Linked DNA regions of Homo sapiens: regions 2 and 3 are each linked to region 1. The links come from fine-mapping of genetic effects on gene expression. A gene starts in region 1. Each other region holds a variant in brackets. All regions are shown on one strand. Distances are from middle to middle. Region 1 holds the start of ATG4B (autophagy related 4B cysteine peptidase). Region 2 overlaps ATG4B (autophagy related 4B cysteine peptidase). Region 3 overlaps ATG4B (autophagy related 4B cysteine peptidase).

Region 1 (6,903 bases):
GAGGCCTTTGGCCTCTTTTCTTTCCCACCCACATTCACACCCTGGGTGACCTCATCTGATGTGACCTCCAGTCTATCTCCAGCCCAGGCTTATTCTTTTAGCTCCAAACCTGTAGACCCAAAAGCCCACTGGACACTGCTCTACAAGGATGTCTAACATCCACCTCACATTCAACACACATAAATCCAAACTCGCAACAGAAAGCTTCCCACCAGACAGGACCTCCCCAAGTCTTCCCCATCTGAGTTTCTTTTTTTTTTTTTTTTTGAGACAGAGTCTCGCTCTGTCGCCCAGGCTGGAGTGCAGTGGCGCAGTCTTGGCTCACTGCAAGCTCCGCCTCCCGGGTTCACGCCATTCTCCTGCCTCAGCCTCCTGCGTAGCTGGGATCACAGGCGCCCGCCACTATGCCCGGCTAATTTTTTGTATTTTTAGTAGCGACGGGGTTTCACCGTGTTAGCCAGGATGGTCTCGATCTCCTGACCTTGTGATCCGCCCACCTCGGCCTCTCAAAGTGCTGGGATTACAGGCGTGAGCCACCACGCCCGCCCCCCTCCATCTGAGTTGCTTAGCTCAGGCCATACACTATGGGGCCATCTTTAACTCCTCCCTCTCTACCCATCCCTCTCCCAACTTCCAATCTACAAACAAATTCTATTGTCTCAACCTCCAAAACACATGCAGAAGTCAACCTCTTACCCACCCTGAGCTAATCCACTGGCATCTCCTTGCTGGCTTGTTCAACAGTCTCTTAGCTGGTCTCGCTGCCTCTGCCCTTGCCCCTCTGCAGTACATTCTCAAAAGAGATGCCAGAGCAAGCCTGTTGAACACAGTCTATCATGTGACTCCTCCTCTAGAATGAAACCTTCCAAACGGCTGCCATCCTGTTCAGAATAAACACTGAGTCCTCACTATGAGCTGCCATCCTGTTCAGAATAAACACCGAGTCCTCACTATGAGCTGGCAAGGCCCCACTACACTGAGCCTAAGTCACCTTTCTATCCTCAGCTCCTGCTTCTCCCACCGCCACCCGCTGCACCTGAGCCACACCAGGCTCTTGCTACCTGCCCTTCCTCCTACACTGCTTTAAGTCTTCGTCAAAACTTAAACCTTCAGAGTGAGACCCTTCCTGGCCATCCTGGCTACAATTCCAATCCTCCTCATCCTTGGCCCAAATCACCATCCCCCAGGAGCCACGCACTTCGCTGCTAATGCTGGTCTCATGTCTAGAACGTTAGCTACCCCAGGGCAATGGTTTTCATCTATGTTGTTACTTCTCTAGTCCTAGTGTCTAGAACAATGCCTAACACATATCTGACAGTCAGTAACAAACAGTGTATTGAATTAATGACTATCAGAACAGAAACTGTATTACACATGGTCAAGGAAGGCAGAATCTTCAAGAACTCTAGAGATCAAAGGAGGGCAGATCATTAATCATCTCTGAAAGGAAATACAGCATCAAGTCAGAAGGAAAATTCCCCATGATATCCTACAAACATCATATACGTTTTTATCAGCATAAACAGAGACCTTTAAATGCAAACACCTTTTCTACTCTGATCCCACATGCAGCAACATCCAGTGTCCTATTAAAGTATCACCATGTCAACACAGTTGTCAAGGGAAAATAAAAGATAAAATAAAGTATCGCCATGTAACAACATAACTGTTCTCCCAACTTGAACATGATGATTTTCACATTTTAGGTCATATGATCGACACTGAACCGTGTTTTTGACCTTAGCCAAGTCTCTCATATGATACTCCAGCCTCAAGGTATCGAAATGATAGAGGCAGGAGGCAGACAAATCCTAGGCAGAGAGGGGTGGGTCACCAGTGAAACCCAACCTTCAAGCCACAGTTTAAAGCCTGAAAGCCAAGCGACGAGTCTCGGATAAATCCACAGACTGGATTGCGAACCTCTCTTCCTGTTTGGTGCGCTTTCCTCTAATTAATCCCCACCCTTCACCTATTTTACATATACCTACTTTTCTCTAATTGGTTTATTACACTGTTGTGCCCACCTTTGAGTAGTGACTTTGTTTTAACCTTTTTTGCATACTCACAGACAAATCAGCACACACTCCCCATTCTGAGCCTATAAAAGCCCTGGACCCAGCCACACCAAGGGAGACCACCCGACTTTGGGTGGAAGACCACCCTTGAGTCCCCTCTCTGCTGAGGGGTGTTTCATCACTCAATAAAACTATTCTCCACCCTCCTCACCCTTCGATTGTCAGTGTTAAGTGTAGTCTCATTCTTCTTGGACGTGGGACAAGAACTAGGGACCCAATGAATGCAAGTACAAAGAAGGCTGTAACACTGTGGCCCTGGGCCCTCTGCCGGCAAAGGGCAGCCACCCACTGTGACACCCCACGTGACAGGAGGCAGCAAAGGGAAGCAGCGGGGACGGAGCCAGCCCCAGAGCTATAGCCTGGAGCAGGGCAATGGGAGTAACAGGGCTGCTGACACTCTGCAACACCCCCTCTTGGGCTTCAGGGTTGTAAGCACCCCTGCTTGGGCGCCACTACCTTCCCCTTGTCTGGACACCAGAATCCACTGTCCCTTTGTCTGGACGCTGGAGTCCGCCGTGGGAGTTGCTTGCCACATGTCTAGCTGTAAGCTCTGCAGAGCCCACTCTGGTGCCTGCGCTTGAAACAGCTGGCGGGACCCGGCACTCACTCACCCACACACCCACTCCCGCCAGGGGCTGAGCATACAGTCATGGTGGCCATGGTATCCGTGCCATAGTGCAAACCAGGTGCCCACCGGTGGACCAAGTAGATGGGGTATCTCCTGCGGCGAGCCTGGACCCAAGCAAGGCCTGGGCAGGGGCCTCGCCAGCCGGAGGTCTCTGGCTGCCAGAGTGGCTGAGAAAAATCCTGCATCACAAACAATAACACCTAAAAAGATATAATACAACAGTTGTAAAATAGTAAACAACAAATAGTACACAGCTGCAAATAGTTCAACCGTGAATGACGGTTATTCTAAAAGACAAACTTCACAAGATATACACCTGGTCAACATGCTCCTTAGGGAGTCAGGGCTCCTGTTTCCTCCAGCCACCTACCACATTTAAGTGGTGAGCTGCTACAAATCATTTTAATAGATATTGGCAATACACATTACAGTTTTCCAACTCAGATCTTAATAAATTTATGTTGTAGCTACCAGAAAAATAAAAAGTAAAAACAATCCCATTCAGAATGACAGAATTAAACCAGATGAAAATCTTTCTTTACAGATGGGGGATACTTGGTAAAAGGCAAATCAGTTCCCACAAAGAATGAATGAGCTAAAACTTCTGTGTAAAAATATTTCTAGGGCTACTGGGCTAGCGATGGGTTTGGCGCTGACTTAAAATAATCTTGCTAGCAAAAATGGAGCGGAAGCATGAAAGGATAGGAAAAAAACCAACACTCCCTATACACACACACACACACTCCTTCTCTTTCTCTCTCTCTTAGGACCCCAAGAAACTAAGACCCGATGATACAAATTCACTGTTTCTCTTTCTCGTCACGGAAAAGCAGCTTGGAGAATCTACTGGTTACTAAATTGAAGACAAAAACAAAAAAGATACGTATACTGTGATGAACACGTCACGTTTCTCTCCTCCAACCTACCAATAACTTCATAAAAGTTAAAGAGCTTCCATCCCTTCACGCTCAGCTGCGGAAAGGCTACGCTTTCGCCCGCCGCTCGCGTCCCCGGCCCGGACCGCGGCCGCCCCGTTCGCCGCCGCGCCTCTCCCCGCCCGGCAGGCTCCGCCGCCCTCCACGGCCGACCTGGCGCAAGGGCCTGTGCAGCCACAACCTCCGGAGCGCTCCGGACGGGACCGGAAAAGCAGAAGCTCCAGCGCAACCGACGGCGGGTTCCGCGGCGCAGTGCGCCGCCGTCCCCCTCCCGCTCCCACCGCCCACCACCCACCAACACCGCCCCGCGCTCCCGCAGCGCCCGCCGCCCCGGCCCAGCCTGGCCCGCACCGGCGTGCCCCGAGGCGAGTCGCGGCAGCCCGACCCGAGCAGGGGAGGCCAATGATAAGGCGAGCACCTCCTGCGGAAAGACCGACCCCCGGCAACTCCTCACCTGCGTCCATCTTCCCAGTCCGGCCGCCGACTGACCCGAGCGGCGTCGCTCCGACGGGCCAGCAACGCGACGCGGCGACGGGACGCCGCGGGGGCCAATAGGTGTGCCGGCGCAGGCGGCGAAGACGATACGGCGCGCGAGCGGAAATACGCGGGAGCCGCCATTTTGGCGTACGGCCGGGCCGACGCGAGCCCCGGGGCGCCCTGCGGGCGGCATGGGGTCGTGTCGTGGGACGACGGCTGGTTCTGCTGTCCGACGGGACACTGTGTGCCATGGGTGGCGCTTCCTCCTCTTAGAGGACCCAGGAGCAGTTGTCGAGGCGGCAGAGGCGAGCTCTGTCCCCGTCCGAGCAGCCATCTTGCGGTACGGACGTGCTCGGCGCGCCCATGTCGCGGTACGGACTTGCCCCGCCGGGGCGACTCCCCCGCCCGTCTGCCCGCCTGCCGACGGACGCTGCGAGGGGCCTGCGGCGCCCCGCTGGTCCGAAGACGCCCGAACCCGCGGCTGGCGAGGACGCGGGCGGGGGCTGGGGCGGGGGCGGGCCCGCTGCGGGCGCCTGCGCCTCCATCTTGCCGTACGGCGCGGACGCCGCGGGCCGGCCCACGTCCCGAGCCGTGTCGCCGCCGCGCTCCCTCCCTCGGGGCGGTCCGCGGGCGGGCGGGCGGCTAGGGCCGGGGCCTGGCTGCGCGGCTGGGCCAAGGCCCGCGATGGTGATCTGCTGTGCGGCCGTGAACTGCTCCAACCGGCAGGGAAAGGGCGAGAAGCGCGCCGTCTCCTTCCACAGGTACGCGGGCCCCGGGCCGCCACGCCCCCGCCCCGACCCGGCCCTGCGGGGAAACTGAGGCCCCGCGGCCGGCCCGAACGCGGGGGGCGGGGGCGCCGGGCCTCGGCGGCCGGGGCGCGGGGGAGCGGGCGTGGGCGCTGTGTGACCTTGGCCCGGCCGCCGTCTCTGGGCCGGGCGCCTCGGGCAGCGCAGCCGCCCCCACCCCGGCCGCCTGGGTCCGCCCTGCGCGCGATCGATCCGGCCGGCGCCTAGGCTTCAGAAGCCGCACGCTCTGGAAGCGCAGGTCCTGGGCCGATTGTCCTGCTCGGCCGCGACTGCTGACTCTCCGGACCGCGCGGGCCGTCGGCCTGGATGTCTGCGAGCAGGAGCGACCGGGCAGACGCGACCTGCGCCTCCGTAGCTGACAGCCCCCGAGAGGGCTTTCCGGGACTGGGCCCCCGAGCCCAGGACGCGGGTACGCGCGGAGAGTCTACGGGACGGCCGGCTGGGGACGGCATCCTCCTGCGCTCCCTTAGAGCCTGGCCCGGGGCTCTCGGCCGCTTCCCACGTGGGCCCCCGCGGCAGGGCCCAAACCCCTCTAAGGCCTTGTGAGTTCAGCCTATTTCAGTGAGATTTCTGCGGATTACACGCGGGAGGCACCAGAACCGCGAACAGACTTTAAAAACCACTTTGGAGATGTTTCTGTTTTATGTTGCATGGTGTTATTTAAGTTTTAAAGACGGGAATGGCACGTGTTATTTATAGGGTTATTGAAAGTTCACAGTAGTTTGCTGTAAGTCTTAAATCATTACAATGTATTATAAGAATTAGTAACATTAGATTATTTCACAAGTCAGCCAGCGCACTTTCTTGACAATTTCCTTCAGAGCTTGTGTCCTAGAAGTTTTGTTATTGTTTTTTGAAAACGAGGCAACGTGTTGCAACGGTCTAACATGGTATGGGAGGAAAGGACATCGGAATTGGGGGTGGGGGGGTACCTTTGCAGTTGGCCTCACAGTGTTCAGAAAGGAGGTTAGAAGGTCCTGTTGCTTAGAACGGCCCAGTCCATCCTGTTAGGATTTGTCCTGGTCCACACTGGCCTCAGGTGGAGCAAATAGCAGTTAGAACTGACCACCCTGTCCCTTATGTGCACATTAGGGCCTGGTTTTTTTTTCTTTTTTTCTCTTTTTTTTGAGAAGGAGTCTCCCTCTGTCGCCCAGGCTGGAGTGCATTGGTGCGATCTCGGCTCACTGCAACCCCCGCTCCTGGGTTCAAGCTATTCTCCTGCTTCAGCCTCCCAAGTAGCTGGGATTACAGGCAAGCGCCACCACGCCTGTCTAATTTTTTTGTATTTTTAGTAGAGACAGGGTTTCACCATATTGGCCAGGCTGGTCTCGAACTCTGGCCTCAAAGTCCTGACCTCAAGTGATCCACCCGCCTCGGCCTCCCAAAGTGCTGGGATTACAGGCATAAGCCACCCCGCCCGGCCCAGGCCTATGTTCTTAAACACAGAGTTTGCCTTAATGAAGAAATGGTTATGAAGGATCTTTATTAGGTAATAAAGAAATGACTAAACATCCTATTCAGTATCTTCCTGCGCTGGTTGCTTTTTTCTCACCATTTTTAAATTATGGTATAATACATGTAACATGAAATTTACCATCCTAACTTTTTTTGGAGACAGAGTCCCACTCTGTCACCCAGGCTGGAGTGCAATGGTATGACCGTAGCTCACTGCAGCCTCAGCCTCCTGGACCCAAGTGGTCCTCCCATCTCAGCCTCCAGAGTAGCTGGGATCACAGGCATGAGCCACGGCTCCCAGCCTTTCCTACCGCTTTTTCAGTGTACAATTCATGGCAACAAATACATTCACGTTGTTGTGCAGCTGTCACTACCATCCACCTCCAGAATTATTTTTATTTTGTAAAGCGGAATCTCTGGACTCATTAAACATTAATACCCCAGTCCTCCTCTCCCTAGGCTCTGGGAACCCGCATTCTCCTGTCTCTATGAATTTGATTACTCTGAGTACCTCATGTGAGTGGTAT
Region 2 (6,903 bases), 28 kb before region 1:
TCCTGGCTAACACAGTGAAAACCCGTCTCTATTAAAAATACAGAAAATTAGCCAGGCGTGGTGGCGGGTGCCTGTAGTCCCAGCTAATCCAGAGGCTGAGGCAGGAGAATGGCGTGAACCTGGGAGGCGGAGCTTGCAGTGAGCCGAGATCGTGCCACTGCACTCCAGCCTGGGCGACAGAGTGAGACTCCGTCTCAAAAACAAACAAACAAACAAAAAGTGTGAGCCACAGAGCTCCAGCCCATGTTCCCCACTACTGCCACCCTGCCCAGGAGGTGCATGGAGCGTGGTGTGCACTCTGGGGCTGCGCCACAGCTCAGAGACCGTCCCATTTCAGGCCCAGATCTGCCTTCTTCCTCCTAAATGGGGCGGAGCATCCACAACAGAGCCCCCGATTCGGTTAACTGCTTCCCTGAGCATGTCACCGTCATTCATGATTTCTAGGGGGGTTTTTTGGCCTCTTTCCCCATCAAATATATTTGAGGGCAGGCAGGTCTGCATAAATCACACACCAAAAATCACAACTAGGTAATCAAAATGGAAAAACAGGGAAGCTCCTTCTTAGGAAATCCCCCAGAGAGGTCAAGTCAGAGCCTCCGGAAAACAAAAGGTGGTGCAGGAGTGGGTGGGTGGAGGGGCCGCCCGTGTTTAAATGTGGGTGTGACGAAGGTGGTGCAGGGGTGGGTGGAGGGGCCGCCCGTGTGTTTAAATGTAGGTGTGAGGGGGACACACTCACCATGGCTCACACTCATCCATGCACACTCAGCACGCGCCCACACACGCTCACATCCAGACACACGCTCTCTGGGCCACTCGAAGGCCATGAAGGCTGCACAGGAGGTGGTGCCTGGGGGAGGGACGTGAGGGTGCAAGGACACAGTTCCGGCTCTTATACCCTTCAGATTCCCAACCACGTGAACACAGTACTTATCCCAACATGCTGAAAAAAAAAACGCAAAAATCCGAAAGTTTTCCTCGTCATTCCCAAACAGCATTCAGCACCAAATGCCTGTGTGCTCAGGTGGCCGCCACGTACCACAGCGATGGACGGGTCAAGCTCCGCGATGCTCATGCGGCACGGCGGGTGCTGGCAGTGGAAGCTCTCGTCCGGGATGAAGCAGCCATCAGTGGGCTCCACGGCTGGCTGCGTGGTGTGGGGGTCCAGGTAGATGAGCTCCTCACCTGGGAGGATGAGGCAGGTGGGCAGGTGGGTGGCCGAGCCGGCAGAGGAAAGGGACAGAGGAGGCCGCATTTCAGACCCACTGCACCCACATCACACTGAGAAGCAGTGGGCAGGAGGTGGGGAGGGAGCCGAGGGCACCAGACCATCAGGGAAAGGGGCACACAGGAGGCCGCCCGCGACCAGGCTGAAAATGAACCCCAGGGCATGCTGCTTTTCCACCAGTGGCCTCAAGTGGTCACCTGGGGTGTGGTACCTGCTCATGGAATGCCCTTAAAAGGCCCAGGCCCACAGGGACACGGTGGGAACCCTGGACTCACCAACGTAGCCGATGAAGTAGTGGGCGCTGTTGGGCTTCCCTCCGATGACGCCCAGGGACTGGGGCATCATGAAGCAGTGCTGTGGAGGGGCGGGGGACTGAGCACAGGTCCCAGGTGGGAGCAGACGGTCCCCCCACCCACTGCCATAGGGGGCCCAAGGGCCTGCTGAGGCCCAACTGGGTGACACAAGAGGGGACAGGAGGGGACATGGTACCAAAGAGCTTACTGTCCAGGAAAGACCACAGGACATCCCACAGGCACAAGAAACCCAATCTGCAGGCTCAGCTCAGGGAAGCTTCATGTCAGAGGTGGGCTTTGGGGAGGCCGGGAGTGAGGGGGCCTGGCAGGAGATGTGAGCAGGGGTGCGGGAGGTGGCCCTGCTGAGTGCTTTGACCTGACAGGGCAGAAGCGATGGAGACGGGGCCTATGTGTGGGGGCAGCTGAGACCCCACAGGATGGGCAGAAGGCTGGACGGAGGGGCCAAGTTCAGACAACTGAATAATTTTAACAGGAAGCCACATTTCAGTTCCATACAAATGTGACTCCTTGGTCTAAAATTTGAGTTACCTGAAGAAAGGATGGTTTTCCCTTCTGCTTGCTTTTTTTTTTTTTTTATTTGAGATGGAGTCTCACTCTGTCACCCAGGATGGAGTGCAATGGCATGATCTCGGGTCACTGCAAGCTCCGCCTCCTGGGTTCAAGAGATTCTCCTGCCTCAGCCTCCTGTGTAGCTGGGACTACAGGCGCGCACCACCATGCCCGGCTAATTTTTATATTTTTAGTAGAGACAGGGTTTCACCATGTTGGCCAGGCTGGTCTCAGACTCCTGACCTCGTGATCTGCCCGCTTTGCCCTCCCAAAGTGCTGGGATTACAGTCATGAGCCACCGCTCCCCGCCCCCTTTTGCTTTCATGACATGGGGGAGCCTGTGGCTGGAGCTCCTCACACAGCCCTGCCCATCCCCAGGCCCTGCCCACACGTCCCTTCCTCACAGGCCAACCCACCCTCCGAAGGGACCTCAGGCCAAGAGGGCTGTGGGGGAGTGGGGTGGGCATGCCTGGGGCACAGTGGAGACCCGGGAGGGGGCGGGGCTCCCCGTCAGGCCGAGGAGTGGCACCTGGTTCCAAGGACCCCCTGCAAGCGCCTCATGCTTTCATCCTCGACACTCGCCTTGACACTTGCAGAACGAAAGCAGCACGTGCCTACTGATGGACGTGCCTCACGCCCACTCACCCCTTGGGCAACGGTGTAAACCAGGGTTGTTTACCCCTCCCCCGAGAGCCGGCTGCACAAATGGCCACGTGACGACGATGCGCTGAAAGTGACTAAGAACTGGGAGAAGGGGACGGGGACTCAGGGCAAGCGCCGCACGGCAGGACCCACCTTCAGCGTCTCCACGTAGGCCTCGTTGATGTCCGTGAGCCCCAGGCGCAGGGGAATGAGAAGTACCAGGGGTCTCCATGGCGACGGCCTGTTGGTGACCTCAGCTCCGGCAGGGAATCCGTTGCAGTGCCGGTCGGAATCTGCAGGAAACGCAGTGGCGCCTGCACAGGGAACGCTGGTCCTGCACAACCTTCCTAGAAAGGGAGACATGCTTTCACTAACCAAGCAGACCTGTGCAAAAGTGCTCCCACAACAAGCAAGCAAATGATGACTGTGTAACAGAAAAAGGGCGGTACAAAGCCAGGTGCTTACAGTGAAATTCAAACTTGGAAAATATAGAAAAGCGTAAGAAAATTTTTTCATAATCTTGCCACCCAGAGAAAAAAGAAATAGTTTCTATGCATACTTAATTCAAGAGTTTTATTGTGAAATAAAGCACACACACGAAACAGTGCAAGAAAAAGCCACGTGCACTTGAGAGGAAAATCACAGAAGTACCCACGCAGCCTGCCAGCCTGGCTAGTGCCAGCACAGCCAGAACCCGCTCCCTCCGGGCCTCCTCAGCAACGCCTTTCCTCGCTTCCACCCCTTCTGCCTACACACACCCGTGAGTCAATGGTCCGGAGGACACATCAACCGGAGGGTGCGGTGATGGGAGAAGACACTCCGGGAGCATGGAGCATGCCCGGCGTCTAGATCGAGGTTTCTCAACACCACTCCCCACTCAGAGGAGCCAGGCTGATTCCAGGGCCAGGCAGGGAATGTTCAGAGGTGCCTGCAGCATCTGCTTAACCCAGAACATAAGGGAGGGCTCA[A/T]AACATAAACGAAAAACGCCAGAACACGGCAAAAGACACCACCAGACTGAGGTGGCCACCGGCCAAAGGTGGAACCGTCAAGCATCAAAAAGATGGACAGTGACAGGTGACAGTGACAGTGACAGGTGACAGTGACTGACAGGTGACAGACAGGTGACAGGTAGCACACTGCACACTAAGTGATGGGAGAAAAGGCGGCTCTTCTCAGAACGCCAACCAATAAACGTGAAAGGAAAGGACAGGCTAGAAAAACCACCATTATCAGGCAGGAGTCACACAGCTCACCAGGACATGCTCAGTGTCACCACTGGATTATTCATTAATTACAAAGGAAAAAAGACACCATCTCCGGGGATCTGACATAGTGTCCCACTGCAGGCCCCGGATGGGAGAGCAGAGGACACTGCCACCCAGAGGCTACTCTCAGCCACAGGCTCAACCCAAGCCCAACTGTGAGGAAGCAGACAAATCCAGCGTGTGGGATGGTCAGCTGACCTGAACTCGTCAAAAATGCCACAAAGCAGCAACAACCACAACAAAGAGGCAGAACCTTCTCAATTAAAGACTAGAAAGACATCACAACTATATACACACAGCACCGGACCCTCAACCAGGAACACAAATCAGCGGCACGGGTTGTTCCCTGGACAGCAAGGGGCCAAGACGGACCCTGGTGAGTCGTGGCGTCACCTCTTTTGTGGTGATGAGGCTGTGTGGCTCTCAGGAACACTCTCATTCGTAGGAGGCTTGCTCATAAAAACCAAGCGTGTCAAAACACAATTGGTGGATCTAGGTGGAGGGTTTGTGGCCATGACTCACTGAACTTTTTTGTAGGACTCAAATTTCTCAAAACAGACAGCTGGAAAACAAGGATTCTGAGACAGAACTTTTTAAATTTCTTTTAGAGACGGGGTCTCACTCTGTCACCCAGGCTGCAGTGCAGTGGTGCAACCACAGCTCACTGCAGCCTCAAACACCTGCACTTAAGCAATCCTCCCGCCTCAGCCTCCCGAGTAGCTGGAACAACAGGTGTGGGCCACTGTGCCCCCTGACTTTTCTTTTTTGAAGCCGATTCTCTGTTGTCCAGGCTGGAGTGCAGTGGCATAATCTCGGTTCACTGCAACCTCCGCCTTCTGGGCTCAAGCAATTCTCCTGCCTCAGCCTCCCCAGTAGCTGGGATTACAGGTGTGTGTCACCACGCCCAGCTAATTTTTGTATTTTTAGTAGAGACGGGGTTTTGCCACATTGGCCGGGCTGGTCTCGAACTCCTGACCTCAAGTGATCTGCTCACCTCAGCCTCCCGAAGTGCTGAGATTACAGACATGAGCCATGTGCCTGGCCTCATTTTTCTATTTCTTATAGAGAGGGAGTTGTCCAGGTTGGTCTCAAGCAATCCTCCAACTCAGCCTCCCTGAGAGGTGCGATTATGGGTAGGAGCTACCACGCCCAGCCTTAAGGGAGTTGTTTGGGTTTCTGTTTGGTTTTTGAGACAGGGTCTTACTGTGTCACCCAGGCTGGAGTGAAGTGGTGCAATCATGTCTCACTGCAGCCTCAACCTCCCAGGCTCATGGGATCCTCCCACCTCAGACTCCCGAGTAGGTGGGACTACAGGTACATGCCCCCATGTCCGGCTAGTTTTTTTGTTTTGTTTTTTTGTAGAGATGAGGTTTTACCATGTTACCTAGGCGGCTGGTCTCAAACTCCTGGACTCAAGCAATCTGCCTGCCTCCACCTCCCAAAGTGCTAGGATTACAGGCGGGAGCCACAGTGCTTAGCCAAGGGAGGGATTTTAACTTTGATTTTTTTAAAACATATATGTTATTGCTTCAAAGAGCCAGTTCTAGTATGTGTTAGTTCTAATAAATTTAATTTTAAAATTTATTTTTAAAATATTTTATAGAATGAGGTCCAGGCACGGTGGCTCACGCCTGTAATCCCAGCACTCTGGGAGGCCAAGGTGGGCAGATCATGAGGTCAGGAGATCAAGACCATCCTGGCCAACATGGTGAAATATGGTGAAACCCCATCTCCACTAAAATACAAAAAATTAGCCAGGCGTGGTGGCATGCACCTGTAGTCTCAGCTACTCAGGAGGCTGAGGCAGGGGAATCACTTGAACCTGGGCAGCGGAAATTGCAGTGAGCCAAGATCGTGCCACCACTGCACTCCAGCCTGGCGACAGAGCAGAACTGTTCCAAAAAAAAAAAAAAAATAGACGTCTGGCTATGTTGCCCAGGCTGGTCTTGAATTCCTGGCTTTAAGCAATCCTCCTGCCTCAGCCTCACAAAGTGCTGGGATTACAAACATGAGCCACTACACCTGGCCTAATACATTTCTTCCTTTAAATCATTAATTTCTGTATTTGTCTTTAATATTATTCTTTGGTTTCTTCAGTTAATTTTGCTTTTTCCGAATTCTTGAGTTGTATGCTTATTTCATTAATTTTCACTTTGTAAAGAACCCATATACTAGTACTGAAGATACACAGGTTTTCTTCTGAGTTCTGTACACATCAGGTTCAGATACATAGTTACGGTCTCTACACTTGACTTTTTTGAGGTTTCACATTTCCAGGCAGCAGGGTTTTGTCCTTTTTTCATTTTATTCCGCATTAGTTTCATAGAAATTCCCAGGCACACTCTGCTGTCACAATCTAGGGTTTGACACGTATCTACTAAACTCTGCCTGTTGTGTTATCTGGGTCCCCTGTAGCTTTGATCTTTCCATAGCTAATCTGTTAATTATTCTGTTTTCTATATATTTTTATTATTTTTTGTTGTTTTGGTTTTTTGAGACACAGTCTTACTGTGTCACACAGGCTGGAGTGCAGTGGCATGATCTCAGCTCACTGTAGCCTCTGCCTCCCAGGTTCAAGCAATTCTCGTGCCTCAGCTTCCCGAGCAGCTGGGATTACGAGGGCGTGCCACCATGCCCAGCTAACTTTTTTTTTAGTAGACATGGGGTTTTACGATGTTGACCAGGCTGGTCTTTAACTCCTGACCTCATGTGATCTACCCACCTTGGCCTCCCGAAGTGCTGGGATTATAGGCGTGAGCCACCGCGCCCGGCCCGCTTTATTGGTTTTGAAGTTGGGATTATAGGCGTGAGCCACCATGCCCGGCCCGCTTTATTGATTTTGAAGTTGGGATTATAGGCGTGAGCCACCGCGCCCGGCCCACTTTATTGGTTTTGAAGTTGGGATTAT
Region 3 (5,908 bases), 35 kb before region 1:
TGTGAAATCCCCACGAGCACAGAGGACAGAACGAAACATGGTGTTGTTTTGAAACAGGGTGTTACTGTGTCACCCAGGCTGGAGTAGAGTGGTGCCACATTTTTTGTAGAGACGGGGTGTCCCTGTGTAGCCCAGGCTGGTCTTGAACTCCTGGGTACAAGCAGTCCTCCCTCGTGGGCCTCCCAAAGTGCTGGGATTACAGGCGTGGGCTCCCGTGACCAGCCTGGAACGTGCTGATGAGCCTCTTTTTCTCCTGAAACCCCGGTGGGAACAGATGGTGGATGCTTCCAAAAGCATCGAAGCTGTCCATGAGGACATCCGCGTGCTCTCTGAGGACGCCATCCGCACTGCCACAGAGAAGCCGCTGGGGGAGCTATGGAAGTGACCCAAGGCTGCCCACTGGAGACGCCTCTCCCTGCAGTCCCCCGAGAGGTGGGAGACTCGCGGAAGGCCCCGTCCCCAGCAGAGTCCAGACCCCACAACTTCAGGAGCTCTTTCCCGGCAGCAGAGATCTGCAGGCTGCCTCTTCTGCCCCGGAGCTGGGGTGCACTGGGGACCCCCGTGGTGGGGACCTTGGCAGTGTGGACATGAGCAGAGCGATGGAGCAGTCTCCTGCCCTCTCCCCTGTCCTGATGGCACTCTGTTGTATTTTCTTACTGAAGTTCAGTGATAACTCTGAGCAGTTTCATTGTGATCACTGTAAATGGTAATCAGTTGGAATTCTCCTAAATGTCTTCCAGACACTAGTAAAAAACGACCTGAAAATTGTTTGTGGAACGCTTCACTTTTCTTAGACTGAGGACGGAGCTGGCTTTGAATGGGAACCTCCATCCCAGGAGAGAAGAGCCTTCATTGGGCCCAGTAGGGCCTTCCTGGACCCTGGTTCCTGCCTAGTTGAGGGAGTCCCACTGTGGGTCTGAACAGTTGCAGCCATGCCCTGGGCTCGCTGGGTCCAGCCAGGCTATATCCGAGTGTCATCACAGCTTACGTCCTGAACTCACCTAAGTTAACTCTGCTATTTTCATTGCAACCCTGGAGCTTAACTTCTCATCCTATCCTTTATTTTTTATTTTTTTGGAAACAGGGTCTCACTGTCGCCCAGGCTGGAGTGCAGTGGCACGATCGTGGCTCACTGCAGCCTTGACCTCCTGGGCTCAGGTGATCCTCCTACTTCAGCCTCCTGAGTAGCTAGGCCTACAGGCCTTCACTGTGCCTGGGTAATTTTTTTGTGGAGACAGGATTTCGCTATGTTGCCAGCCAGGCTTGTCTTAAACTCCTGGGCTCAAGTGATCTACCTGCCTTGGCCTCCCCAAAGTGCTGGGAGTACAGGCATGAGCCACCATGCCGAGCCCATTGCATCCCCTTTTAAGTGACACTTAGAAGGAATGATTTGACACTCCTGGCAGAATCTGTCCCACAGAGCACACTCCGCATAGACAGCAGCATACAGTGTGCTGGAGTAGAAGGCAGGCAGGGTCCCCCATCTGTGGGGGCAGCAGCTGTGGGTCTCAGCACCCTTCTGTGGCCAAGAGACAAACCCAGGCAAAACAAAAGGATTTCACTCTTGGGTAAGCATTGCCAGGGGCTGTGGGATGGGCCTGGGTGAGGAACCTTCAGATGAGACTTTCCTGGACTATCCAGGTGGGCCCAGTGTCATCACAGGGGCCTTTTTTTGTTGTCTTAAGACTGGGTCTCACTCTGTCATCCAGGCTGGAGTGCAGTGGTGCAATCTTGACTCACTGCAGCCTCTCTTTCCTGGGCTCAAGTGATCCACCTTAGCCTCCCAAAGTGCTGGGATTACAGGCTGGCGCCACCATGCCTGGCCCATCACGGGTCCGCATAACAGGGAGGCAGGCGGTCCGAGTCAGGAAATGAGATGCCAACAGCAAAAGCTGGAGAGATGCCATGTTGCTGGCTGTGTGGTTGGAGGAAAGAGCCATGAGCCAAGCAGTTTCTGGCATCCAGAAGCTAGAAAGGCACAGCAACGTTCTCCCCTAGAGCCCACAGCACGATATGGCTGTCTGCCCTCCGGGTCTGGAAGAGGCTGTGCTGTTCCAGGCACTGAATGTGATCATCTTTTAGAGCAGCCACAAGAAGCGAATACGAGCATCGGAGAGGCCACAAGTCCTCAGCCACCTCACCGGGGACCCAGCAGGGCCCCCTCCGATCTGGCTTTGGGCCCTTCACACCTATACCAGGGCTGCCCACAGGGATGCACTGGCCAGAGTGAGCAATGTCCTCACCAAGCCCCCTGCTGTGCCCCAGGCATGGCCTCCCACAGGCCAGGACAGTCACTGCGCACTTGGGGAAGGCTTTGCTATGATTCAAATCGAGGCAAACCCTGCAACTCCAGGCACTTCCTGTGACTTCCTCCTGCTGAAGATGGGAACCGCCATTTTACTTTCCTAAAATCCTATTTTCCTTGCACTTTTTCCTTCTAGGGTTGTATGAGGTGGCTGATGCCACGGCTGGTAGAGAGCCAGGCTGCAGGCAGGACAGGCCCCCTGCCAGGGCTGGGGACACACCTGCTCAGGGCCCCACAGCCCGCCACGCAGGCAGCCACATCCTTTACGTGTGAACGGGCTGAAACATTCACTTATTTTTTTTCTGGAACTCACATTCAATTAGAACTTAAGGAAAAAATAGACACAAGGTTTGTTTTCTACTGAAACTTATTATTTGCCATTAAGAATTGCAAACTATACTACTAAGAATGAACAACATTCTCTTCATTAAGCCTTTTTCAAAACACACGAGACAAAGCTCCCCTTTGGTCAAGGTGTCCCACACATTACCACTGCAGCTCCCAGCACAGCGGCGCACCATGAACTCGGACGTGGAGCCCAAGGAATGGAGATCGCACCAGCCTTCCCTGCTTCCCCACCCCAACTACACCCAAGGGAGAAAGGATACGAGGAAATACACTATGTCTTCAATGCTTGGGGGGCTGGGGGTGTCCTCTGCTACCAGGTGGGCCGGTCAGTGCCGACTGTCCGGCGCGCGTCCTCGGGGATCTCTGGCTCCCCGACCTACACAAGCAGCAGCAGCAGCAGC[G/AGCG]AGTCCTGCCAACGCCGCAGTAGCTGCTCATGAGAAAAGTGCCCACGCTCCCCAAGCCCTCCTGTTTACATTTCCTAGTGGGGCAAAGATACTTTCCCAGGACAGGCAGCAGAGCAGCGGGGCAGAGTGCACTCTGGGACCCGGGACAGCAGGTTACACAGGGTCAGGCGGTGGTGGGTGCTGGAATCGGGGCTGAGGTTCTGGAAATGCCACCAGGTGATGCCACCCTGTGGTGTCTGCCCACCACACACCACAAGACTCAAGTGGTTTTCCCCTTTTGGCCCTAAACCACCTAACACCTCAGCGGCATGGGAGGGCAATTCTCAGCAAGGCAAGGACATGGGGAAGGCTCCTGGGAGAGGCACGCCGTCCACCCTCAAGCCTGGCTGTCACAGGTGGAGGCCCCGCCCCCCCCCCGTCACCACACCTGGGGAAGCTGCCACAGAATGCCACAGCACTGGAAAGGGACACTCTGAGGGCAGGCTCCAGCAGCAGCTCCAGGACAGCCAGCCGCCCTTCTGCCCAGGCCGCCCACGCTGTGTCCTGTGCACGCCATCTTCAGGTTTCCCACACACCCACTTCCTGAATACTTTTCTCCCCAAAGCAAGGAGGAACCTCGCCTTCGTTCCTCCAACCTCATCTCCCACTGAGGTAGCCCTTGGTAAGCCAGGCTGGGCAGAGAGGACACAGCGGTGGGCGCGCCCCCCTCGAGAGCAGCCCAGTCCTTGGGCGTGGGGCCGCAGTGTGGCTGCCGCTCCTCTCACGCCAGCCTGCACAGGTCTTCTGAGACTCTGACTCAGGGAGCGCCCAGAAATTCATGTCTGTGTCTGACAACTTCAAACAGGACTTTAATTCCAAACCAACCACAGAACCGGCGCCTGGGAGCAAGTGGGACTGAGGCCCAGGTGCTAACACGGGGCTGGCAGTGTCGAGAGAACACTCTGGAAGCTCCTAACAGACGGCTCCGCGTGCGGATGCACAGGCCCTGACGGGCACTCTGAGCTGGGCAGTCTGACACCAAGCAGTAAGGCCTCCCGGGCAGCGCAGCCTCAGTCCACGAGCACAGCGGGTGGCCCTCTGGGGGGAGGCAGCACGGGGCGCAGCCCTCGGCAGGCGAGCGGGCGGGATGGATGAAACGCAGCGGCACCAGGAGCCCCAGGCTCTCACAGGTGCCACCCCCGACCCCAGGATTTTCAAAGGGACAGGATTTCAAAGTCTTCATCTTCTGAGTCGAAGAATCTTTCCAGTCGCTCTACATCAGAAGAATCTAGAAGGAACAGGACATAGCGCATCAGGCATCTTGGGTGGGCCACCTGGGTGTGAGTCAAGGGCCCTTGGCGTGGGGCAGACTGAGCAGTGCCTGCTCTGCAGCCCACAGACAGCTGTCCCCATGCGGGTGTGAACAGGTCCGGGGGTTGTGCAGACCTGCGAATATGGGGGGAGGGAGCAGAGAAGAGGAGCAGGGCAGGGTGAGGAGGGCAGGGGGCGGCCGGCACAATCTCAGGCCTGAGGGGCCTCTGTCCCGCGTCTGACCCTCGTGGTCATCAGGAGTGGTTCCATTGCCATTGCCTTGTTTGTAGAGTTTCCCACAGGGAGACAGAGATGAGGAGGACGCGCTCACGGCCACTCACTTCACTGCACGAGCCCAGGCCGGCTCCTGCGGCACGCTGGCCATGGTCCGAGGGGTCTACGCCACCCATGGCCAGTGGTGCCCAAGTGAACCAGTCCCCCACCCAGGACTGCGTCACCACAGAGCCTGCATGTTCTGTCTGCTCCAGACCCCTGAGGACTCCATGGTAGCACGCCCAGCTCCACAGCGCCCGGGCAGGCAGCGCTGGTGGGGAAGACGAGGTGGGTCCTGGGCTGCTGGGCGCAAGCTTGGAGGAGGGGACGCTCCACTCCATACCTGGTCTCACAGGCGAACCACTGCCAAGTGCTCACGGCTCAGGCTCACACACACCTTAATGGTCAAAACCAAGGGGGCCAGGACTGGGGAAGCAAGGGCACAGATCGTACCTCCGAGGGACCCCACCTGGACTTGGCAGCTCTCACCTAGGGACAGGTTCAGGACGTCGGGGCAGGCCAGATGTGAAGGCTGCAGCTCCACCAGCTCAAACATGGGCAGGGCACCTCCAAGCAGAGACAGCTGTTAGTGAGACATGGCCGTTAGGTGCAGCCTCACCCCAGTGCTTGCTGCGGCCAAGAGAAAGGGGCCAGCCGGCCACAGCCAGCGGACAAACCTGTCATCCCATCTCACTGATGAGAAAACAGAGGCAGCTCCACACTAAAGGCTACACGAGAACCCAGTGTGGTGATCAACACACAGCACAGTCTGACCACCACGGCAGAGGGGGGTGGGCCACACGCACTCGGCCGGCGTAGCTCAGCACCCCATCACCACCCCCATCTCAACAGGAGACGGATGAGGACACTGGAAATCCCATTCTAAAGTCAACACGCAACATCCGTCCCCAGGGTTGTTAACTGTGTTGCCAGATGGGCAATCCAGGACGCCCCACCCTGCTCAGCTACATAGCTGTGCCAGGCGGGACAAAGCTCCCCACGGCCCAGTGAGGCTGCCTGAGACCTGGACGCAGGCCTTCGACCCCTGCACGCCCCACTGCCTGTCTCCCTGGGTGGCTCAGCTCGGCTGTGGGTGTGGGGCGGCTACAAACCTTTTTGACTTGCTGGCACCAATCATTGAAGTCATCTTCAGTCTTACAGAAAAACCCCTAAAACGAAATGACGATGAGCAGAACACGACACCCCCATCTGCAGTCGGCTAAGAGGTGGGGGCTTCCATTCCCACTGCCAGTGGCGCAGCAGAGGCCCCCAGCATGCAGGTGCTGGACAT

Evidence for each region. PIP is the estimated chance that this variant, and not a neighbour inherited with it, causes the effect.
Region 2: its variant is the best candidate, but not a certain one, in a credible set for the expression of ATG4B in whole blood (INTERVAL, PIP 0.89).
Region 3: its variant is the best candidate, but not a certain one, in a credible set for the expression of ATG4B in sigmoid colon (GTEx, PIP 0.82).

The regions. Positions count from the first base shown.
Region 1 is chr2:241,634,914-241,641,816 of GRCh38, reverse strand. ATG4B (autophagy related 4B cysteine peptidase) reads right to left here and starts at 4,124. Exons shown (of 13, transcript NM_013325.5): 1 at 4,093-4,124. The coding sequence starts at 4,102. THAP4 (THAP domain containing 4) reads left to right here and starts at 4,659. Exons shown (of 6, transcript NM_015963.6): 1 at 4,659-4,876. The coding sequence starts at 4,800. RefSeq lists enhancers at 2,643-3,176, 3,576-4,503 and silencers at 3,667-3,806, 3,847-4,036, 4,057-4,106, 4,477-4,826, 4,857-4,926 and 1 more.
Region 2 is chr2:241,662,819-241,669,721 of GRCh38, reverse strand. ATG4B (autophagy related 4B cysteine peptidase) reads right to left here. Exons shown (of 13, transcript NM_013325.5): 8 at 2,884-3,077; 9 at 1,501-1,579; 10 at 1,037-1,182. Among named protein-coding and RNA genes, the nearest start is that of DTYMK, 21 kb to the left of the region's middle. RefSeq lists enhancers at 537-1,036, 1,037-1,538, 3,633-4,238. The variant A/T (reference allele first, on the strand shown) is at 3,699.
Region 3 is chr2:241,670,604-241,676,511 of GRCh38, reverse strand. It overlaps ATG4B (autophagy related 4B cysteine peptidase), which reads right to left. Exons shown (of 13, transcript NM_013325.5): 11 at 5,730-5,786; 12 at 5,107-5,200; 13 at 2,655-4,321. The coding sequence ends at 4,248. It overlaps DTYMK (deoxythymidylate kinase), which reads left to right. Exons shown (of 5, transcript NM_012145.4): 5 at 275-765. The coding sequence ends at 385. Among named protein-coding and RNA genes, the nearest start is that of DTYMK, 13 kb to the left of the region's middle. The variant G/AGCG (reference allele first, on the strand shown) is at 3,055.